Linked DNA regions of Homo sapiens: all the other regions are linked to region 3. Evidence: fine-mapped expression QTL. A gene starts in region 3. Each other region holds a variant in brackets. All regions are shown on one strand. Distances are between the middles of the regions. Region 1 overlaps TENM4 (teneurin transmembrane protein 4). Region 2 overlaps TENM4 (teneurin transmembrane protein 4). Region 3 holds the start of TENM4 (teneurin transmembrane protein 4).

Evidence for each region. PIP is the estimated chance that this variant, and not a neighbour inherited with it, causes the effect.
Region 1: its variant is the best candidate, but not a certain one, in a credible set for the expression of TENM4 in monocytes (BLUEPRINT, PIP 0.83).
Region 2: its variant is the best candidate, but not a certain one, in a credible set for the expression of TENM4 in coronary artery (GTEx, PIP 0.53).

What each region holds. Positions count from the first base shown.
Region 1 is chr11:79,146,580-79,154,760 of GRCh38, reverse strand. It overlaps TENM4 (teneurin transmembrane protein 4), which reads left to right. Exons shown (of 34, transcript NM_001098816.3): 4 at 5,955-6,051. Among named protein-coding and RNA genes, the nearest start is that of TENM4-AS1, 57 kb to the right of the region's middle. The variant A/G (reference allele first, on the strand shown) is at 4,203.
Region 2 is chr11:78,680,022-78,688,202 of GRCh38, reverse strand. It overlaps TENM4 (teneurin transmembrane protein 4), which reads left to right. Exons shown (of 34, transcript NM_001098816.3): 29 at 1-149. Among named protein-coding and RNA genes, the nearest start is that of NARS2, 110 kb to the right of the region's middle. The variant A/G (reference allele first, on the strand shown) is at 3,766.
Region 3 is chr11:79,435,950-79,444,130 of GRCh38, reverse strand. It overlaps TENM4 (teneurin transmembrane protein 4), which reads left to right and starts at 3,101. Exons shown (of 34, transcript NM_001098816.3): 1 at 3,101-3,622. RefSeq lists silencers at 2,973-3,142, 3,403-3,512.

The sequences.
Region 1 (8,181 bases), 290 kb after region 3:
GGCTCTGAGAATGTAGAGTAGAGGAAACTCCTTCCTCTGAGGGGCCAAGGAGCTCTCCTGCAAGTGAGTAAGGCTAAGCTGAGAGCTGAAGGGGAAGAGGGGACTCCCAGCCTTGGGGACGGCACTTACTCCTTGAGCATAATTACCTGAAAGATGCCTGGTTTGGATGGAGCTGGGGGAACAAGGGGCCCTGATGGGAACATAACATCAGCAGGGGGTCAGGGGACAAAGTAGACATGTAATGTTTATTTAAGAGTGGTATGGTTTGGATGTTTTGTTCCCTCCAAATCTCATGTTGAAATGTGACCTCCAGTGTTGGAGGTGGGCCTAGTGGGAGGTGTTTGGGACATGGGGACAGATCTGTCATGAATGGTTTGGTGCTCTCTTCATGGTAATGAGTGAGTTCTCACTCTATGAGTTTATGTGAGATCTGGTTGTTTAGAAGAACATGGCACCTCCTCTCTCTCTCTCACTCCCTCTCTTGCCATGTGATGTGCTGGCTCCCTTTCTCCTTCCCCGATGATTGGAAGCTTCCTGAGGCCCTCACCAGAAGCAGATGCCAACACTATGCTTCCTGTACAGCCTGCAGAACCATGAGCCAATTAAACCTCTTTTTTTTTAATTACCCAACATCAGGTATTCCTTTATAGCAACACAAAAGCCAACTAGCACAAGCAGCAAGAGGAAGCTCTTGAGGAGCTTGAACAAGGGGTGACATAAGCCTTCAGGTTTTTGCACTGTTTTTAAAACTTTTCACACCCAGTGTTTTTGAGTCTGAAAGCAATCTGGTAAGGCAGTGAGTTTGGGGTTCTTGTCCTAACCTGACAGATCAGAAAACTGAAGTCCTTCCAAAATGGATGACTTACCTTACCTAAGATCACTAAGAATTGAACGAGTGAGAGGATGAGGGTCTAAGTCTTCCTGCTCAGGGGCTGGTTGAAGAATCAGAGAGAAGAAAGGGGGCCTCGTAGACCCACACACAGCATGAGCAATGGTATAACATGGTGTCAGGGGAACCTTGCATGGTTTGGAGAAGAGCCCCAGTGTGAAAGGACCCAGCACTGTGCCTCGTACATGGCAGATGCTCAGAAAACTACCCTTCCCCTTCTTTCAGCCGCAAGAACCACTGCTTCGGTTTCCCACACTGCCTGGCCACCATCATGCCACCTTCTAGGTTAAGGGGTGTTTGGGCAGATACTTGGTTTTGGTAGGGGTGTGAGAGAAGGGAGACAGGTTGTCTTGTGCTCCTTACCCAAGTCGGGATCCATCTTTCCTAGCTCTGATTGTTCTGCTGGGTGACTTGCCTCTGCCCAGACACCGTGCAAGGAAACATGAGAAGAAAATTTCCCAGGATTTCTGCTGCTCTGCCCCTGGCCCTTGCTGCAATGTTCTACAGTGCTTTGGTCAGAAAAAGTCCTCATCAGAATGATCTGCTTTGGACATGTATTCACACAAGAAGAATCATCTAATATTCATTTACAAAATCCTTTTCATACATTTTTCTCATTTAATCCCCATAACAATCTTGTGAGGTAGTTACTCATTACTGACATTTTATAAAAGGGTTTTGAATTGGTTGTTATTCATGGCACACATAACAAACCAAAACCTGAGCACAGGTCCTCTCTGACCCCAGTCTAGTCATCTTCTAGCTTCGTGACAAGTGTCTATCTTGGTATCATCCTTTAGTACTGCCTATTCAGAGACATCACAACAAACTTTCCCCGCAGTAAGGCAAGTGATGGAAAGCCATTCTAAAAATGTGCCCAGAATCTTTAGAAGAACAAACATCCATGTAATTAGTCTTTGGTATGTTTTGTTCAGTGTATACCTTTCTTCTGCATCAGTTTAAGGTTGGCAGCTCTTCTGTCCTCTTGATGAATGCCGTTGGGTTTTCCTGTGCATTGAAAAGGTGAGTTTGGACATCTTCCTGCTCACTAAAAGGATGAACATTGACCATTTTGGGAGGCTATGTCCAGGAAGTCATGCTTCAGGGAGCCCAGAGCTCAGAATTGCAGTTCCTTCTCTTTGCATATCCATTGGACATCAGTAGAGGGCTGCCAGCCAGCACAAACACTGTGGCATTGGAAGGGGTTGGAGGAATGCAGCTGGCTCCCAGCCCCTTGTTTTCCCGTTCCACTGGAAGGTTGTGTTCATTCGAGCTTTTAAACCAAAAATAAATTGTTGTAATCCATTTGCTAATTATACCATGCTAAAGTTCTAGACGCTGTAAATTACAGCCATGATATATCTAGATGAAGTTTCTGGGAGTTTATTTTTAGCCATCCAGAAAGCACTCAGTTTCCTAGAGGCTTCATTTGCAAGTCTAGGAGGGAACAGGGAAAATGCATCTGCACAACCTTTCTTGGCCTATGACCTGGAGACGATGAACCTCTCCGGTTCTCCTCTGTAAAAGAAAGTGGTTGTAGCCGTTCACTTTGAAGGTCTTGTCTATCTTCAAAGCTCTAACTCTCATTTTCTGACTAAGCAAAGTAGAATGTAGCCAAACATGGGTTTTCAGTTCCTGGTTGATCATGGAGAATATCAAAAGCCACCACACCAACATATTAATATTTGTGAACCATGGAACACAGATCTTCAGAAACCTCAGGCTCAATGGACACATTGCGTTTCTTTTCTAGTCCTCAATTTTGAGGAGTGGAGAGAGGATGGAAGGATTTTATGTTTATTTAGCACGTACTCTTTGCATAATACACTGCTTGGTGCTTGCATTTGAGTGATATTTGGATGGCCTTCTCCATTCAAGGACAATGTCATCTAATTTTAATCAATCAGTCACTCATTGACATCTGTGTGCCAGCCACTGGGGTTGGTTCTGAAAATATCTAGGGTAAATTAGATGCATCTCTTACCTCCAAGGAGACAGGAGGTGGAGATAAAGCATGCAATGAAAATGTTGAAGTGCTTTTTGAAATGCACTATTATCTACAAATGATTAAATACCAAGTGCCAGCAGAGAGAACACAGAGAGATACATTGTGAGGGGTAGGGGGAGTGTCTAGGTTCATCTGTGCCTGTTGGGGGAGGAGAATCAGGGAAGACTTCAGGGATAATGAGGTATTTGAGCCAGGGATGATATGTAAATATGATTTTAAAATGTGGGGATTGGGTAAGGGAAATTGGACAGATCTAGTTTAGTAACCTCGGAAAGCGCCCCGGCCAGGTCCCATGGATGACTGTCCTTGACCAGTCATTAACACATGACACACAGAGCACATCTCTTCCCCAAACACCACAACTTCTAGCAAGTTTTCTTCAATTTTGACCATAGTATGATTATTTTTTCAAAGAGTCAACATAAAAAATCCTTTGGAACAATTCCTTTGTCTGGATGCTTCTTGTGTTTAGACTTCTAGATAAGCAATCTTCTACTATACTTGTGTAATTCTTGGGTGGAGAGATGGATGCATGGTCAGATGGATGAATGGATGGTTTCATATCATTGTAGAGCTGCCACAGCAAAGAGATGGAAGCAGTGAAACTGGTTTGGCTCGCTAATAGCTTTGTGGGAAGAGCTGAGCTTTAAACAATAAACAGAATTTTCTCAGCACACAGTATGGATAAAGGCCTTCCCTTCAGAGGGAAGCAAAATGAGAGCATGAAATCCATGACATCGTGGAAGAATGGTGAGTCACAGAAGCCATGGTATAGGAAGGCAGGATGAGTTAATGTAGTGGCTGAGAGCACAGGCTATGATTGGATGGACTGCGGTTTGAATCCCTGTTCTGCCACATAGTAGCTGAGTGATCCTGGGCAAATTAGGTCACTTTTCCAAGCTTCTATTTTCTCATCTGTAAAATAGGAATATTAATAATGTCTACCTCGTGTGGTTATTGTGAAGATTAAGTAGAATAAAATAATGTTTAGCACAGTGATTGGTATGCCCTTAATAAAGTGTAGTTTATGGTTATTATTTTATAAAAAAACACTTCTAATTAAATTATGAAAATGCCCATTCAAACCACAGAATTTGTGAAGGAGTCAGAGAAAGTCCTTGGGGGGAAAGAAGAACCAGGAGAAACTGGTGTTGCTGATATGGAGGCAGGAATTTCTAGAGGGAAGGGGTCCCTGCTAGCAAATGACCCAGAGAGGCCACTGCAGATTGAGAAGAAGTGTCTGGAATATGCAGTGACAACATCCCTATGATCTTAAAGAAAGAGGCTGAAAGCCACAAGGCAACG[A/G]TTTGTGAAGAGTGTGGGAGTGGAGGAAGTGGTGGTCTAGATGACTCTTTCAGGAAATCTCTCTGAAAAGGAGAAAAGGAACTTGGGGGCAGGACAGGGGACAAGGTCATGGGAAGGGCTGTTTGCTAGATGAAGAAATTTGAACTCAACACAGTGTTTTTTGACCTTTCTAAACTCATGCCTGCTTTGATAGACATAAACATCACTCTCCCCTGCAAGACTGATGTTCTGGCACCCAAGACCTAACACCAGGCTTATTTGAGAGCCACATCTGCCAGGAGGATTTTGTCAGGATTTACTTTCTGTGCTGTATTTTTAAAACAGTAGGAATTTAATGATCTGTGAGAACCAAGCAGGTAAGAAATGATGGAGGCATTGTAGGTCATAACAAGGATGGATTTGAAAGATGATAAGAAGGCTGAACCGAGCAGGAGTGAGGAGTGAGGGGCAGAGGCGAGTCAGAGGGATCCTGGGGTTCTGGCATTGAGGACTGAATAAATCACTGCACCAACTGGTGTGTGTCCTTTTTCTTTGTGGGTTCCCACCTCTACCTGCCTAGGTGACATTATACAGGTTTAAGACCAAATAACAGACGTGGTCATTGTTTAGAAACTTTTAAGTACTTTATCAGTGTAGGGCATTGTTAGTGATACTGTTATAAAGAAAAAAGAGCATACCTTGATCTTTCCTTGTGCACTGTGTCTTTGTCAGTGAGTATAATTTTAAATGGTGTGAGGGAACTAATGTGTATTGCTCACATACCTTATTACAGGTGAGGAAATGGAGATGCAGAAACATTTAAAGAAAGCCAGCCCAAGATCAACCCGACAGCCAGAGAATGCACACTCTTTCTAAGCACATATAAAACACTCACGAAAGTGGACTGTATCCTAGGCCGTAAAATACAATCCAGTAAATTTCAAGGAGTCAGTATCCTACAGACCATATTCACCTACCACAGTGCAATTAAGTTAGAACTCAGTAACAGAAAGATGAGATGTTTTTTAAAAACCTATATTGAGATATATTTATAAAAATACTTCCAACTAACTCTCAGATCAAAAAGAAATGATAACAGAAATTATAAAATGATTATAAATGAATGACCAAAGAAATATTAAATATCAAAAGTTGTGGAATATAGCCAAGACAGCACTTAGAGAGAAATTTATCACCTTAAATGCTTATATTAAAAAAGAAGAGCTGAAAATTAATGAATGGGTTAAGTATCCAATTTAGGAACAACAGCAAATATAAGTAAATAAACCAGCCCAGAGTTGTGCAGTCAGAAGTGGTGGGGCCAGGATTTGGGCATAGCTATGGCTGGCTCAAATCCCTCACTCTCTTTACTCCACTGGTACCTTTCTCTGTGCTGCTTTCCATTATATGCCCAGTACCTGGAGATTCTCTCTCCCTAAGAGTTGAAGAGATGAGGCTACAAAGTAACTCCCTGCATGAAAGCTTGATGATAAATCCCACTCATTTTCTCAGCCATCCTTTTACTTGTCCATCAACTACTTAATGAGCATTTGCCATGTGCCAGGCACTGTGCTAGTAGCTACTTTAGTTGCATCTTTCCTCTGAGCGTTCAAACACTAGACTTCAGCTTGGGACCAAAGCTCATACTGCTGCTACTAATGCCCATGCCCACGTCTCACCCCCACCTCCCAAGCTGCCAGAATCTTCTCTACTGCTTATCAGAACAGCATCCTCATCAAAAATGACTGATTTGTCTCTTGTCTCTTTCAACAGGTAGACTGAAATTACCATGTGTCCAAATTAAAATTGCATACTTCAAGGATTATTTGAAGGACTATTCTTAGACCCTTTTAAGAAGATTTAAAGAAAAGTGAGTTGATTTTTTTTACACTTCAGAGAGTATTCATGATTTAAGTTAATGTTATGGGTTCTTTTTTTCTCTACCTCTTAAATATGCATTAATAGGTAGACTTTATCTTCATTTATTTTACAATAAAGATTTTTTTTTCCCTAAGAACAATGAACAAAGAGTGCAGGATTACTGCTTGCCTTCCCTGCAAGATTTTTATATGTTTCAAAGGCTTGTGGAATCTTAGAGATAAAAGGGTTTTAGAGGTACGGACCATTCCCTCCTGGATGCTGGGAAACCCACAACAGCATCTCTATAGATCCCTGGCCTGTTCTTGGAAACTTGCAGGGACTGGTTTGGAGGTTGGTATCTCCCCACACTTAGGATTTTTGTAGAGCTCTCCCATAATCTGGACTTGAAATTCACTCCACGTCTTGCCAAGTCTCTTTCTTCTCTACTAGACATCCTAAAATAGGTGAATGTAAACAGCATGTCCCTCCTCAAGATCTTTTCTTGTTATTTGTTCCTCCAATCATTTCTCATAAGTTGGTTTCAAGAGCAGCTCCCACCCTGGTCACTTGGAATACAGACAGAGCACCTCCAGTGATCTTTGCCCAGTATATGGATGAGAATCAAAGCAGGGTAAACCCAAAGAGCAGGCCTGGGTTCAGCCCCAGTTCTACTCTTGTTGTGTTTTCAGGAAAGTCACTTCATCATTCTGAGCTTGGTGAAAACAAGGAAGGTAGGAAGAGATAGTCACTACCATGCCTCTGACCTCCACTTGGATCGTTTTGCTGACTCAGAGTAAAGAAGTTGCTGCTTCTTACCATCTCAGGCACTGGAATGGGCCAGGTCTTGGGAATCCATGGAATCTGGGTCCAATCCAAGCCCTATCACTTGCTGACTATGTGGCCATAGACTGCCATTTCTCATCTCTGATCATCTGTTTCCTCATTTGTTAAATGAGGATGCCAATAAATGTTGCAAAGGGTTGCGTGAGGATGTACTGAGATAATGTACATAAAGCACCTAGTACCTGGTACATAGAAAGTGTTCAAAACATGGCAGTTGCTAGTATGATTATAAGTAATGGCAGAACTACTTACCTTTAGCCAGAGGAGAAGATAGGAGGTGCTAGAGACTCTCATAAGGAGAGAAAAGAACGGGCATACTCATTAGGGATACAGTAGTGTTCACATCTCATAAACTCTCATGCAAACATAAGCCCAACCTCAGAAAATTCATGAGGTTAAAACTCTACTTCTCAGAGTCAGACAAGGATGATGGGTTGCTATGGAAATATACAGTTAAAAGGGAAATTTTAGAGTGGGTCCGAGAAGCTGCACAAATCCTGCCAATCTCTCACTGATGCCATAGCCCCGGTCCTAGATGGTAAGGATTAGAGCCCCCCAGAATGAAGGTCCTTAAACACACAGACTGGGAGGCCTGCAAATCATCAAATATTTATATATGTTCAGAAGGCTGGTGGTGAGTGTTGGATGAGAGATTGAGTGTTTTGTAAACTGTAAAGTTTCCTACAAATATATGTGCCTTTGTGTGATTCATGTATTATGGACTGTATCAATACTTTGCAAATCAGAAGAAAGGGGGGAACTCAGATGAGCTGACTGTGTAATGAACCTGTAGAGTCCAGCCCCACTGATTTCTGAGTGAAATAGCATATACGTATGCATGCATGTACATATCTGTATACACACGTCTATGCATGTGTGTGCATGCACACGTGTGTGTTTGTGCATATGTGTGTGAATCTTTGACCCTTTGGAGGTAGTCACCACTCTTTATCCAGTGACTGGCTGCCTCTAAGGAGTATAACAGAGGAATGAAAACACAGGCTATGGTGTCAGTCAGCCTAGCTCTATAACTTACAAGTTATGTGGCCTTGGTCACATTATTTGATAAGAGTGGTACAGTTTTCGCCTTCCTGGAGCTGAAAGTCTGTGGATAGGGCTGCTCTCAGGAGCTGGGAGGATGCAGCATAGGATGTATCTCTCACACCAAGAAAGTGCTTAGGATATGGGAGAGTCTTTCTCCCTTGGTTAGTGGCTTTTTTCTGTTTGTTTTTCTCAGAGTTTAGGGAATGTTGTGTTAACTCGTTAGATAAAAGGAACCTCTGAAGGTATCTTTGGT
Region 2 (8,181 bases), 760 kb after region 3:
AAATGTGACCTTCCCTACTGGCCAGGTGAGCAGTTTCCGAAGTGATACAGACAGTTCAGTGCATGTCCAGGTAGAGACCTCCAGCAAGGATGATGTCACCATAACCACCAACCTGTCTGCCTCAGGCGCCTTCTACACACTGCTGCAAGGTAAGTCAGGTGGGGGCCAGGGGACTTTGAGGCAGAGGGGTGGGAAGACCCCTTTGGAGGAGGATGGCACAAGAAATAGGCTGCTGCTGGAGCTGCCCAAGAACAGGAAAGCATTGCAACTCTCTGTATTATCACCTAATTTGCAAAATATACCAGCCTGAGTCAAGTAAATTCCCTCTCAGAAGCTTAAGAATAATATTTTATTGTCCTATCCTGTTATCAGAACAAAGGGTAGGGAATTCATTAGCTGCTAATCCAGGTGACCTCGCTATTCTGCCATCCTAATGACTCCCAGATTAACAGACACACTCACACTGGTGTAGGTGAGGACAAAGGACAAAAATAATTACGCATAATTATGAAAGGGATTTGATTATGGAGAAGTCCTTCCTGAAGCCCAGGTGAGAAGGTTTGTGCCTCTTCTAGGATTTCATAGAAAAGAGACCCTTCTTTGCATTTGTCAAATCATCCTGTTACGGGTTGGTCTTTTAGCTTCAAGTAAAAAGATTTCACAATGATGAAATCTTGCTGTTAATTATCTGCCTCAATTGTTCTCATGGGATGTGGTGACCCAGGTGGGCTTGCAGCTTTGTGGGATTTAGTAAACTTGAAAAGAAAGAAGCCATCACCAGGGAAAGCTCTGCCTGATTCTTTCCTGCCCGCTGGATGGCTCTTTGTACCTCCAAAGGCTTTCACACGAAGCAGTGAAAGGAGCCTCAGGGTAAGAGTCAGAAGCCCAAGTTCTAGTTCTGACTCTGCCACCACATCACCCACCGTGACCCTTGGTTTCTTCTCCAGGAAAAGAAAGCAAGCTGAAGCTGTGTGGAATGGGGTGGAGCAGTGAGAAGAGCAGGGGTTCTGGGTGGGCGATTTGGGGCCCTGTGCCCATCATGCCAGTTCCCACCTGTGTGAACTGGCTGGGGTCACTCTTCTTCTCTGAGCCTTGGTCTCTGGGTCTGGGAAAGGGGGCTGAATTTTAACACCTGCCCCACAGGGCTGCTCAGTCGATCTCTTTAGACAGTGTAGTGACTAGCATGAGCCAAGCACATACTATTGCTCAATAAGCAATACTATTGGATTCCTTAAGTAATTAATTAATTAGCAAGCAGTTTAACTTACCATGAGAAAATAAATGTCTGTATATTCTTACAACCACTTTTACTCCCAAATTTAGTCCTTTGCCTTTCAAAGAGCTCCAAGAACAATAAAGGTTCTCAAAGAAAGAGAAACCACACGCTGGAATTCCTTCTTCACCAAGCACCTTTAACCGTGGTTTTTGAGGAAAACTCAGTGTTTCGTCTGTTCTCACACAATAGTCATCAACAGAAGACTTCTGTGACCAAATATAGGCAGAGGTGGGGTTCTCCCCACCATGAAGCAAGCAATCAACTCTGCAGTGGACACCAGCTGGGTGTCCTTCAACTCAATTCCAACACTATCTACCTGGAGATGGCCTCAAATCCCACCGGTTGAGGGCTCAGTCCCCAAAACTGCCCCCCCAACCCCACCCCATCTATCATACTTCAGACACCAGTCACAAGTCTGGGCCTCTGGAACTTCTATCTGACTGGCTTCTAGTTGAGATTTTCATGACTGCTTCTTTGGGTTCAGTTAATTTACTGGAACAGCTCACAGGACTAGAGAAATACTTACATTTACCAGTTGATCATAAAGGACATTACCAAGGGTATAGACGAAGAGATGTATATGACAAGATATAGGGTAAGGGGCGTGGGGCTTTCACACCCTCCCCAGGCACATCACCTTCACCCCTCCATGGACCTCCGTATGTTCAGCTCCCCAAACTCTGTCTTCTTGGGCCTTTTAGGAAGCCTTCATTGGATAGGCATGATTGACAACCATGTAGAAATGTGATCGGACCCAGCAAGGCCTGTCTCTTCAGATTCTTCTTGGCCTCTCTGTGCAGCACTCATTCCTTCCTCCAGGGTATGGAGCAGGATCCCCTCTGAAAGTACGTCTTATGACCCACAGTCAGATTAGAGTCCTGCCTTGGAGAGGAGGGCAGGAGAAGGTCAGAGAGAGAGGCAGAGAGATTGTTTCCTAAGGCCTGCTTCTGAGTCCTGAAGTGCCTCAACATTAGAACCAAAGACTATGAGAAGGGGTATAGGAGTTATGAGCTGGGAACTGTGGATATATAATCATAATATCACAAGTGGGTTGGGACAGACCCCAGGGATTTATGCTCTGACTGGATTATTGCCAAGAGAAGGTACAATTTCTGAGGCAGCCAAGATCTTGCCTGACCAAGGACTGCAGGACCACCAATTACTCAGACATCTTGTCCTTCAGGCCTGTCTTGTTCCCTGTGATTAAGAATTATCCATCCATTCCATACTGCTAAACTGGCTGTGAGTATTTTTCTCAAAGGTTCATGTGGGCTTTCTTATATTTGGGCAACTTTTTAAAATTTGAAAGTGCCACATTCCTCAGTTTTTAAATGTATTCATCAATTTAATAACTTTTTAGGCAGAGGGAAAAAAGTCATACTGCTCAAAAGGCATACGTGGACACATTCCAATTTCAAAAAAACATTAAAATATGAAAAGAAAAATCACTTCTTGGAATCCAGGAAACATGGTACCTGTTTTTCCTCTTTGGTAGCTCTGCCAAGCTCTTTCCTTCTTGAGTACCAGGCTCAGATGCTCAGTTTTGCAGCTGCCTCACTAGAGTCTCTGTGAAAAGCTCTTTCGGTTTCATCTTCTGTTTAAACTGTGGAAAGTAATAAGAAGTAGCTGCTAATGAGCAGCGGCCTTGGGAAGTCACAGCCCACATTAAATGGGATCATCTGAGATGGGCCTCTACAGATGCTGTTCCCTCCAAGTCACCATTAATGGACATATGTGGATTCAGCAAGGAGCAGCTTTAAAGGATAAATTGACACAGGCTTTTTCACTGTTCAAAGGCAGAAAAATATAGATTGTCAGTGAATAATGCATAGCAAGTTTGAGGCAGATTTTAGAATTTTTGCATGTGTGAGAGAGAAAGATGGAGAGAGGAGGGAGTGGGGGGGGCCTGTTTGAAGCCATTCTAGCAGAAAATATTCAGTGAGGGTTTCCCATGAAAACTATTGCTTAATAACTATCTTTAGTTCTTGACATAGCCTGGAACATAACTAGTTTCATCCAGCAAAAATTTACTGAGCACATATAATCCTAACGATGATGATAGCTAACATTTTTGGAGCACTTATTAACTGCAAAGCATATTTTCAGCATTTTACATTAAGCAGTACCTCATAAGGTACCTCATATAGTACCGCATATGCCTAGGAGGTAAGTATTATTGTCTCTGTTTTCTGCATGAAGGCAGTGAGAAGCACTCGGAGGTTAGGTAGCTTGCCCCAGTCACACACCTAATTGGGTGTTTGGACCCAGGCAAACAGGCTCTATAGAACCTATTCTCTTAACTGCCAATCTAAAGACAAGGGGCCCTATTCCAGGACCATGGTCAGCACTAGAGAAGTTCACCATGATGTGTGTGTGTGTGTCTGTGTGTATGTGTGTTTGTGAGAGAGAGAGAAATGGGATGGTGGAGATAGAGGAGAGACAAGAGACACACATGACAGTGACTAGCACAGTGCCAGGCACATAAAACC[A/G]GTGACAGCTAACATTTACATAACACTATATGCCAAGTACAGTTCTCAGCTCTTCATATTCATGATCTCACTCAATCCTCAGAGCATCCTGCAAAGCAGGGTACAATTATTGTCCTAGTGTACTGATGAAGTACCAGAGGCATGGAAGGTTAAGAATTTGGCCAAGGTCTTACAGCAAGGCAGCCACAGAGCTGGAACCTGAGCTGAAGTAGCCTGGCTGCAAAGCCAAGCTCCTAATCTCTGTGCCATAGTGCCTCTCACAGCACGCACTCAAATATTGGAGAATTTGTTCATTAACGGAGCAGTGACTCCCACACCCCTCAGCTGCAAGACCACTGAGGAGGCCCATAGAAAGGCTGAGGGGTGTACAGGACAGGGAGTCATACATTCTGGCCAGTGGAACAGGGGAAGCTTCTGGAAAGAGATGACATTTTAGCAGAGCCTGGAGGGAGTCTTAAGCCAGCACTTACTGAAGACGGGGGCAGTGCAGAGGAAACAGCCAAGGAAGGGCCAGAGACAGGAGAGTGCAGCACAAATCCAGAGATAGTATTTTCATCTATAGAAAGAAACTCTATGTGTATTTTACAGCTGAAATTTGCTTTTTTCACCGTAAGTTTCATTTAGTTAAGAATCTAGGGAGGAGCCAAGATGGCCGAATAGGAACAGCTCCGGTCTACAGCTCCCAGCGTGAGCGACGCAGAAGATGGGTGATTTCTGCATTTCCATCTGAGGTACCGGGTTCATCTCACTAGGGAGTGCCAGACAGTGGGCGCAGGCCAGTGTGTGCGCGCACCGTGCGCGAGCCGAAGCAGGGCGAGGCATTGCCTCACCTGGGAAGCGCAAGGGGTCAGGGAGTTCCCTTTCCGAGTCAAAGAAAGGGGTGACGGACGCACCTGGAAAATCGGGTCACTCCCACCCGAATATTGCGCTTTTCAGACCGGCTTAAGAAACGGCGCACCACGAGACTATATCCCACACCTGGCTCAGAGGGTCCTACGCCCACGGAATCTCGCTGATTGCTAGCACAGCAGTCTGAGATCAAACTGCAAGGCGGCAACGAGGCTGGGGGAGGGGCGCCCGCCATAGCCCAGGCTCGCTTAGGTAAACAAAGCAGCCGCGAAGCTCGAACTGGGTGGAGCCCACCACAGCTCAAGGAGGCCTGCCTGCCTCTGTAGGCTCCACCTCTGGGGGCAGGGCACAGACAAACAAAAAGACAGCAGTAACCTCTGCAGACTTAAGTGTCCCTGTCTGACAGCTTTGAAGAGAGCAGTGGTTCTCCCAGCACGCAGCTGGAGATCTGAGAACGGGCAGACTGCCTCCTCAAGTGGGTCCCTGACCCCTGACCCCCGAGCAGCCTAACTGGGAGGCACCCCCCAGCAGGGGCACACTGACACCTCACACGGCAGGGTATTCCAACAGACCTGCAGCTGAGGGTCCTGTCTGTTAGAAGGAAAACTAACAACCAGAAAGGACGTCTACACCGAAAACCCATCTGTACATCACCATCATCAAAGACCAAAAGTAGATAAAACCACAAAGATGGGGAAAAAACAGAACAGAAAAACTGGAAACTCTAAAACGCAGAGCGCCTCTCCTCCTCCAAAGGAACGCAGTTCCTCACCAGCAACAGAACAAAGCTGGATGGAGAATGATTTTGACGAGCTGAGAGAAGAAGGCTTCAGACGATCAAATTACTCTGAGCTACGGGAGGACATTCAAACCAAAGGCAAAGAAGTTGAAAACTTTGAAAAAAATTTAGAAGAATGTATAACTAGAATAACCAATACAGAGAAGTGCTTAAAGGAGCTGATGGAGCTGAAAACCAAGGCTCGAGAACTACGTGAAGAATGCAGAAGCCTCAGGAGCCGATGCGATCAACTGGAAGAAAGGGTATCAGCAATGGAAGATGAAATGAATGAAATGAAGCGAGAAGGGAAGTTTAGAGAAAAAAGAATAAAAAGAAATGAGCAAAGCCTCCAAGAAATATGGGACTATGTGAAAAGACCAAATCTACGTCTGATTGGTGTACCTGAAAGTGATGTGGAGAATGGAACCAAGTTGGAAAACACTCTGCAGGATATTATCCAGGAGAACTTCCCCAATCTAGCAAGGCAGGCCAACGTTCAGATTCAGGAAATACAGAGAACGCCACAAAGATACTCCTCGAGAAGAGCAACTCCAAGACACATAATTGTCAGATTCACCAAAGTTGAAATGAAGGAAAAAATGTTAAGGGCAGCCAGAGAGAAAGGTCGGGTTACCCTCAAAGGAAAGCCCATCAGACTAACAGCGGATCTCTCGGCAGAAACCCTACAAGCCAGAAGAGAGTGGGGGCCAATATTCAACATTCTTAAAGAAAAGAATTTTCAACCCAGAATTTCATATCCAGCCAAACTAAGCTTCATAAGTGAAGGAGAAATAAAATACTTTATAGACAAGCAAATGCTGAGAGATTTTGTCACCACCAGGCCTGCCCTAAAAGAGCTCCTGAAGGAAGCGGTAAACATGGAAAGGAACAACCGGTACCAGCCGCTGCAAAATCATGCCAAAATGTAAAGACCATCGAGACTAGGAAGAAACTGCATCAACTAACGAGCAAAATCGCCAGCTAACATCATAATGACAGGATCAAATTCACACATAACAATATTAACTTTAAATATAAATGGACTAAATTCTGCAATTAAAAGACACAGACTGGCAAGTTGGATAAAGAGTCAAGACCCATCAGTGTGCTGTATTCAGGAAATCCATCTCACGTGCAGAGACACACATAGGCTCAAAATAAAAGGATGGAGGAAGATCTACCAAGCCAATGGAAAACAAAAAAAGGCAGGGGTTGCAATCCTAGTCTCTGATAAAACAGACTTTAAACCAACAAAGATCAAAAGAGACAAAGAAGGCCATTACATAATGGTAAAGGGATCAATTCAACAAGAGGAGCTAACTATCCTAAATATTTATGCACCCAATACAGGAGCACCCAGATTCATAAAGCAAGTCCTCAGTGACCTACAAAGAGACTTAGACTCCCACACATTAATAATGGGAGACTTTAACACCCCACTGTCAACATTAGACAGATCAACGAGACAGAAAGTCAACAAGGATACCCAGGAATTGAACTCAGCTCTGCACCAAGCAGACCTAATAGACATCTACAGAACTCTCCACCCCAAATCAACAGAATATACATTTTTTTCAGCACCACACCACACCTATTCCAAAATTGACCACATAGTTGGAAGTAAAGCTCTCCTCAGCAAATGTAAAAGAACAGAAATTATAACAAACTATCTCTCAGACCACAGTGCAATCAAACTAGAACTCAGGATTAAGAATCTCACTCAAAGCCGCTCAACTACATGGAAACTGAACAACCTGCTCCTGAATGACTACTGGGTACATAACGAAATGAAGGCAGAAATAAAGATGTTCTTTGAAACCAACGAGAACAAAGACACCACATACCAGAATCTCTGGGACGCATTCAAAGCAGTGTGTAGAGGGAAATTTATAGCACTAAATGCCTACAAGAGAAAGCAGGAAAGATCCAAAATTGACACCCTAACATCACAATTAAAAGAACTAGAAAAGCAAGAGCAAACACATTCAAAAGCTAGCAGAAGGCAAGAAATAACTAAAATCAGAGCAGAACTGAAGGAAATAGAGACACAAAAAACCCTTCAAAAAATCAATGAATCCAGGAGCTGGTTTTTCGAAAGGATCAACAAAATTGATAGACCGCTAGCAAGACTAATAAAGAAAAAAAGAGAGAAGAATCAAATAGACACAATAAAAAATGATAAAGGGGATATCACCACCGATCCCACAGAAATACAAACTACCATCAGAGAATACTACAAACACCTCTACGCAAATAAACTAGAAAATCTAGAAGAAATGGATACATTCCTCGACACATACACTCTCCCAAGACTAAACCAGGAAGAAGTTGAATCTCTGAATAGACCAATAACAGGCTCTGAAATTGTGGCAATAATCAATAGTTTACCAACCAAAAAGAGTCCAGGACCAGATGGATTCACAGCCGAATTCTACCAGAGGTACAAGGAGGAACTGGTACCATTCCTTCTGAAACTATTCCAATCAATAGAAAAAGAGGGAATCCTCCCTAACTCATTTTATGAGGCCAGCATCATTCTGATACCAAAGCCGGGCAGAGACACAACCAAAAAAGAGAATTTTAGACCAATATCCTTGATGAACATTGATGCAAAAATCCTCAATAAAATACTGGCAAACCGAATCCAGCAGCACATCAAAAAGCTTATCCACCATGATCAAGTGGGCTTCATCCCTGGGATGCAAGGCTGGTTCAATATACGCAAATCAATAAATGTAATCCAGCATATAAACAGAGCCAAAGACAAAAACCACATGATTATCTCAATA
Region 3 (8,181 bases):
CCATATAGGAGAATCTCCGGTTAGCTATAGAGTTAGATTATAACATGGTAGCAACTGACCTTTTTTCCCCCCTCTAAAATGCTCCCTGAATTCTACTTCCTCCTGAATACTCTTGACATCGCAATGAGTAGTACCACCTTCTATTGAGATACCCAAGCTTGAAAACTGAGTGTCACTTTGGGCTTCTCCTTGCTACCCCCATCCAATCAGAAATCAAAATCATCCTCAATCTCTCTCAAATCTCTCCTCCCTTTTCTGGCTTCATTGCAACTGCCTTAGTTTCCCTAAATGACCTACTTTTTCCTGCCTCTACTCTTCCTAAGTCACCCCAGTTAATCCATTTCTCTACACTGCTGCCAAATCATCTTTTGAAAACACACTCAAGATCACATCCTTCCTCTTCTTAAAAGCCTTTATTAACTGTCTACCCTCCTTCTGCCCCAGTACCTGAACTTTCAGGATGTTTGGATCCTTAGCCTCCTTCAGGCCCTGTCAAAATCCAATCCTAGATGCTAGGGACTCATCTAGACTCCTCCAAGACCCTCCCCCAATATGTCCAACTCTGCTATGAGTGTCTCATGCTTTTGTCCATGTCATCATACTATTGCCTGTACCTAAAAAGCATCTCCCCTCCTTTCACGGTCTAGCTAATTCCTTGCCTTCAAAACTCAGCTCAAGGCCAGGTATGGTAGCTCACACCTATAATCCCAGCACTCTGGGAAGCCTAGGGCAGAGGATTGATGGTATTTGAGACCAGCCTGGGCAACATAGTGAGACCTCATCTGTAAAACAAACAAACAAACAAATAAAATTAGTTTGGCGTGGTGTGGTGGCACATGCCTGTGGTCCCAGCTACTCAAGAGGCTGAGGTGGGAGGATCACCTGAGCTCAGGAGGTTGAGGCTTCAGTGAACCAAGATGGCACCACTGCACTCCAGCCTGGATGACAGAGTGAGAACCTGTCATCTCCTATGGGAAGTCTTCCCTTACTCCCAACAATTCCATTGGGCATCCCTCATGATTAGATTCAGGTTATTCATGTCTACCAGGAATATCACAGAAGTGATATGTCCTTCCCAGTGCACTATATCAGGGGCCACTTGATGTCTATTTGTCACATTCCTGCTAATACTGATTTTAATCACTCAAGGTGGAGTCTTTCAGGTTTTCTATTGAAAAGTTACTATTTTCCCCTTTGAAATTAATCAGTATCATGTGGGCAGATACTTTGAACCTATATATATTTTTTGTTTCTCAACATACTTTCACCCACTACTTTTAGCATCTGGGTCTCATTTTTCTCACTGGTCAAATGAAATGCATAGACTGAAAGTGATTTGCAAAATTATCACTCTCAAAGATCCCTTTCTTATACTCCCTGTCTTGGATCTTCTGTAATGAAAGAATTTGTCCACCAAACCAATGTTACTCCTTCAGGTACATGTGTCTCATTTTCTCAGTGTACATTCATGAAACATGCCTACTGAACTGTAAGCTCAGAAAACAGGGCCTGTTTGTCTCACCACTGAATGCCGAGACCTATCACAGCACCTGCCACAAAGTAGGTGGTCAAGAAATATTTGTTGAAGGACTAAATCTAACTGCCAATCACAGCTGATGCCCAGCATTTGATGTCTGCAGTGAGGACACAAAGTTGATAAATGCTATTCAAAGGCAGAGACTTGACATTTTAGTTAATCTCAGAGGCTTTGTCACTGGTCACTGTACACTTATCATAAAGATTTTAAAAATAGATTGGACAGATTGTGTGGAAACTTCCCACCCACCCCAACCCATCCCTGCCTTTCTGAGATGCCCTAGTTATGAGATGTTGAAGGGGCATTCCAGCACCCCACGTTTATAATCTGTGATGCCTTTATAATCAGCATATGGCAACTGGCTAGACAGTCTCCTCACCACACAGAAGAGTTTTCAAAATAGCCTACCCCTCCTTTCACATTTATGTGAAATTAGCATTGTCACATTTCCTCCTTCATTGACTACTTTAGATCAGAGAGACACACTGTAGCAGAAGATCATGAAGGAAGTTGTCTTAAAGAAGGAAACTAACATAAATTAAGCATCTCATATACACCCAGTGCTTTCTTTCCATTGTTCTCTCTTTTAATCCTCACCAAAACTGGTGAAGTCGGTATCATCCATTTTATAGATGAGAAAACTGAAGCCGGGTAAGGGGAAATGGCTCGCACTAAGTCCTTTAGCCAGCAGGCAGCAGGGCTGGAGTGGGAATTCCTCCAGTCTCTTCCCCAAAGCCCTTCCAAGTTGCCACTCAGTCAAACTACCGCTCTCATCACATAAAAATGCCCTTCTCTTGGAAATGTGCTTGCCATCACGATCCAAACATTCGAGGGACAGAAATCTCTTGGACCGCAATCACTGCTATTTTTTAAGTGATTGTTATCACGACTCAGTAGCTGTTACCATGGTTTTGGGGAAGTTGTCCGAGGAAGGAGGGCCTTTCTTTGGGCATCTTGCATGCCTGAAGAAGGAACTCAAGATCTCAGCTCTTAATTACTCTGATTGTGCTGCAGTAGCAACTTGAAAGAGACCGTCCCTAGAAAAGTGTTGGGGTGGGGGGTGTGGAGTAACATCCAGCGAGCAGGCAGAAGGGAGGCCCTGGGCGCCAGAGAGACCCAGGGAAAGGCGAAGAGGAGGGAGAGGGGACGAGACCGTGCTACGGGGAGCCTGGAGAGAAAGCCAAAGGAGGAGGAAAGAACAAAAGGCAAGAGGAGAGGAAGTACAAGAAAGTCCAGAAAGGAAAAGAGAAAGTTTCAGAAAGGGGAAGAGAAAGCAAGCAAGGAGGGTAAAAGAAGAAAGAGACCAGAAAGATACCGAACTGAGAGAGCTCGGAGAACTCGAGAAAGCAAAGGAGGTAAAAGGAGAGAAGATGGAGAAGGCGGCGGAGAGGAAGGGGGAAGGAGACAGAGGAACCGAGACTGGGGTGAGGGAGCGGCCGCGCGTGGCCCCCGGAGAGGCGCCCATCACCTGCGTGGCGCCCCCCCGCGCCGGAGTGCGGCCCTGCTCCCAGCGCCAGTGCGCCGCGCGGCTCGCCGGCCTCGTAGGATTGGCTACCGCCTCCCATTCATGTAACCTGCGTGTGCGTGTGCGTGTGTGTGTGTGTCTCTCTCTCGCTCGCCCTCTCTTTCTGTGTGTAAGAGAGCGAGGGTGGGGGACGGAGGCAGGCAGGCGAGCAGGCAGGGAGGGGAAGAAGAGAAGGGAAGCTATTAAACACACACACACACACACACACTCACACACGCGCGCGCACACACCCGCCCCAACCCCCCAGAAGCCTCGGGATTGCAGCTGTTTCATGTGGGGCAGCAGTGCTGGCAGGGACGCCGGCCGGGAGCGGCCGGGAGCGGGAGCCGGTCGTGCGCGCGCGGCTGGAGGCTCGCTGGGGCTCCGCTCCCCGCGGGAGCTATTGTTGGTCTCGCTGGAGCTGAGCGCAGAGCCCGGACCTGCTCCTTCCTGGGCGCCCCGCTACGGCTCGCGGAGCAGAGGAGCCGCGCCGCCGAGAGAGAGAGGAGCCACCGGCGCGGCGCCTTGCCTCCCTGCCGCCGTCCTCGCCGCTTCCCCGGCGGTAGCAGCCTGCAGCCACGGTAAGGCGGCGTGATCCGCTCTACGGAAAAGCGCCTTGGGGACCGCGGCGACGCCTCGCCAGCTCCATCGCCCTCTGCACTGCTGGCCCGGGCAGGGTTCGGGTAGCTCACGCGGCTGCCGAGGGCTCCGGGAGATGTTTGCTTGCTCCCCTGGCCCAGGAGGAGGGAGGCTAGGGCGCGGGTGGCCGAAGAGGCAAGCTGTTCTGGAGCCTGGAGCCGCCGCAGCCCCCGGAGCCCGCCGCGGACTGGAGCCTGGGAGCAAGGGTTGGGGGAGGGCAGGGAGGTGGGAAGCGGGTGGGAGGGAGGCGGCGCGCCCCAGGTTCGTCTGCCTCTCCCGGATCCCGTTCCCCGCCCCGGCCCGGTCGCCTGCAGCCCCTCTGCAGACTAGCTCGCCCCAGGCCCCCGTCGGGCGCTGGAGGAGCCCGCGAGGCGGCGCCGGGCTTCAGCGGCTGCAGCCTGCCCTGCGGGGCAAGTGCCGGCTGCAGCAGCCCCGCACGGGCGGTGGTTGGAGCTCAGATCCTGGAGATGCGACCCCAGCTCCTCGCCCTCTGCAACCCGCGGGGCGCCCGCCTCTCCTCACCGGGCGCCCGGCCGCGGTATTGATGTTCGTCTAGGAGCCAACTGAGGCTGCAGCCGCCAGATGGACGCTTGGAGGGCTCCCGGGTGTGAGTGTGACTGTATGACTACTCTCACCCCCAGCTTCGGGAAATGTGCTCTGGGTTGAAATGTGATCACCGAGCTCCTCAGTCATTTTAATTGCCATTTTTAAATGCGGTCGTTACATTGGAGGAGCAGACTGGAAGGTAGTGGGGCGGCGTGTGTGTGTGTGTGTGTGTGTGTGTGTGGACACACACACGCAACCGAGGAATACACAACCAACTACTTGGGTGAAGGGCGGGGGGTTCACCTAGTGAGTCCTTCTTGGCGGGGGGGTCGGGCGAGTTAGCTGCCCGCTGCCCGCCCCTTCTCTGCCTGCCCCCGCCTAGGCGAGGTTGGAAAGTACTGGAAATTCAGCTGCGTGGTCCTTAACTTTGGAAATTGGCTCCGCTTTCAGGGCAAAATGTTAAGGCGATTTATGCACCCGCGTCCATGTGGATGAGTGTATTACTGCTCAGTTGGGTGCAGAGCCCTCAACAGTACCGCGCCAAGCCCCCACCCGATCTCTAACTCCCTCCCACCCCCTAACCGTGGAGAGAGGGTTTATAGAAATGCAGTTATCTGTAAACCATCGACGCAGTGAAAGGGGCGCAGGGAGGCAGCCAGAGTTTTGCCTGAACCTGCATACTGGCTTGGTGTTTGTAGCACACGAGATCACCCCGCTGCTTTGTAGAAGGCGGTGGTGGGGCAAGCTCGGGATTCCAATCGCCGGGGTGGGGGGTGGGGGGAAGAGGGTGCCCATGTACTGAGCTCTGAGGCCGAGTAAGGAGAGAGATCTGCTGAGCGGCATCGCGGGCAATTACATAAGCTGCCTCGGTGATTACCCGGAACTGTGATGCGAGCTCCCGGTTCTCGAAAGACAAGCCTGAAAGTTTGCCTGCTTGGGGAGTGTAAGTACCGGGGCGCCCCCACCCCGGCCTGGGTAGCTAGGATACGCCTCGCACCACGGCGCCCACTTGTGCGATGGGCGTCGGGTGCTGATGCTGCTGTCCCCAAAGAACCGGTTACCGAGGCAGGGACTAAGTGGGGGCATCCGGAATTGATCGCAGAGGAGGAGTCAGTCAGAACTGAGGTTTCATTGGGTCTTCAGAGCTCCAAGTCTTCCCTCGGAGGTGTTGGAAGGCCTTCCAGGGAACGCCGTTTTCAGAAACTGACTTGGTGTCCTGGGGAGCCCCAAAGCCCCTCTTTTCCGCCCTTCCTGGGCGCCCCTCCTTGTCTTTCAAGCCCTGTGCCCTTCACGTGTTTAGAAACCTGCCCGCGGTGCCTGGTCCCCCTTGGAGATGCCCAGGCAGCCCAGCCATCCAGGCCCACGCTGGCGAGGGGTTAGAGGGAGTAGAACGCTGGCTCTGCCGGGCTGCCACCCTTACCTACACCTATTCCTGGTTTCCTGCGCTAGCCCGGCGCTGATGGGGACGGGATGGGGCTGGGGTCGGGTATGGCTTCCGTTCCTTCGCCTCTCGCCTCTGCAGACAGCAGTTTGCTTCTGTTGCGTTTATTCTCCCCGTTTCGCCGCTTCCCTCCAGCGCCGCAGCCTGTGTATCACGTTGATGGGCTTTGATAGAGAAACCACAGTAAGAGTATGCTTTTAAATCTTGATTTTCGTCTGTAGGGGGATAAGCCACCCCAGCCCTGACACAGCCGTGGGGAACGCTGAAGTCTGGGACACATTGGCCCTGAACTCCCTTCCCCCCAGCCCGCAGTCAGGAGATGGTGATGTGCATGGGTGGGGAGTGTTTTGTTTTTGCCACATTCCAGCGTCCTGAAACCTCTCGTCCCCTCCCACTGAAATCCCCGATCTGTCTGAATCTGTTCCTTGCTGTAAAATAAATCCTCCCTCCCGCAGACCTGTGGGGCCCTTCGGATTTCCTGCCGCTGCCATGATCCTTAACAATGCGATTGAAAAGCCAGTGCTCGGCTGGAAAAAAATCCCCAGGTGCCAGCCGGCCGCGCCTTGACCTTGCTGAAGGAGCCTTTAACCCGGCTGCCAGAGGGGCTCTGGTCCAGCCGTGGGAATCCAGGAAGAAGGAGGGCGCCCCGGAGGCGGCTGGGTTAGCTCCCCGGGCAGGGCGGGAATCAGGTCGCGGCGGGGACCGCAGAGGGGGAGGGGACGGGACTCCGCGGCAACCTGTTTCCCGGCGAGCCGGGCCCGCGCATCCCAGCTCCCTCGCCCCAGCCCCTCGTGGCCCGCCTCCCCCGCCGGCCTCCAGTTGTCTTCGTGGTACAGGAGTCGGCCGCGACTCCCTCGCGCTCTCCGCCGGAGTCCGCGGGACGCCGCCAACTTTGGGCTCCTCGGTGGCCGGAGCAGCGGTGCGAACCAGCGGGGCGGCCGGGTGGGCGGGGCCTGGGCGGGAAACTGGAGCCGAGAAGACCGCGTTCCAGGCCAAGTTCCAGCCGCAAGCGCCGCGCGGCACAGTGCAGGGTCCCGGCCGCGCCTTTCTCCCGTCCCCGGCCCGGCCGCGTTCCTGCGGACTCACAGCGCGCTCCGGGCGCTCTGCAGTTGGGCTTTCAGCGGGGGAGCCCTTCTCGTCAAAGTTACGAGGGGTGTTTTCACTGGTGGTGACAGTGGGAACTAGTTTTCTGCGCGCCTGTGTGTGTGTGTGTGCATGTGTTGGGGAGCAGAGAGATTTGCAGCGAAGTCACACATAGCACAAAAAACAGGTTTCCCCTTTCCAGGTGTTATAAGGGAATGCTGAGGAGGAATCCGTTTTCTCCGGTGAGGGTGTTGACGGGAAGCCCTTCCACTTAGTGGAACTGGACCTGTTGGAGCTGATTGCCTGGAGTGAACGGGTGTCTCCTTTAGCGGCACCTGTGTGCCGTAGGTCCTTGGAAATGTTTGGGGAACTGAAAGTCCTCAAGATATTCAGCCAGGACTTAGGGCATAGATGTTTGTGTGCTTTTAGGGGGCTAATTCGGGGAAGCTTTTATTTCCAGCATGTGTCTTGAACTGAGGGGAGGGCAGGGTGCGGAAGGCTTGTGGAATTGCCATCTTCTGTGGTGGGGGAAGGGATCAGGGACGGAGAGCTTTGGTTTTCTAGAAAGAGTTCTTGGGTTCTTCCTCTGCTCTCATCTTGTTTTCATCAAGGCCTCTGTTTGGGGGTGGAGGTAGAGTGGTGCGGTAAGCGGATCAGCCACCCTAATAGACCGGCCTTGACCAGTGCGGATGCCAACGGGCAGAACTAGTGCTTGGTCTGAACAAGAACCATCAAAGGATAGTTCTATAGTGAGTGGAGTGACCTGGAATATGAGGTAGAAGGCTAGGTGTTAGAGTAATGGGTTCCCACGGACTCTCTTCCAATAGAATCTGATTCTATTTGGTATAGTCTCCTCAATCTTTTGTGGTTTTGTGGGAGTAAGGTGATAGGATGTGACTTTAATCTCTTAACTATTGGGTTGGAATCATGGCTCTGTGGCCTTAGGCAAATTGTCTTTGGAGCTTCAGTCCTCTCCCCTGTAAAATGGCACAATATTACTTAGTTTGCAACACTGTCAGGGTTTTTTTTTATGATCCAGTCTATAAACTTTATTCAGATTTTTCCAATTGTCCCAATAACGTCCGTTATAGCAATAGAAAATCCTGGCTTATGAGTTCATTCAGCTTTTCATGTCTCTTTAAACTCTTTTAACCTAGAACATTTCCTCATCTTTTTAAATCTTTCATATTATTGAACACTGTCAGTTTTAACATCGATAAGGCCTCTGGCATACTGTGGTCCCTTCACAGATGCTTGTTCCTTTCTACCTCCTTATCCCCTTCCAGGAAGCATCCTGCATTTGTTGGGTGGAGATTGGGCAGAGAAATCAACAGCCCCGAAAGAACCACCAACCTTGCATCCAGCCTATTTAAAACCAGCTTCAAATGCGTGAAATGAAAATTTCTTTTCTTTTCTTAGGAAAGTCATTTC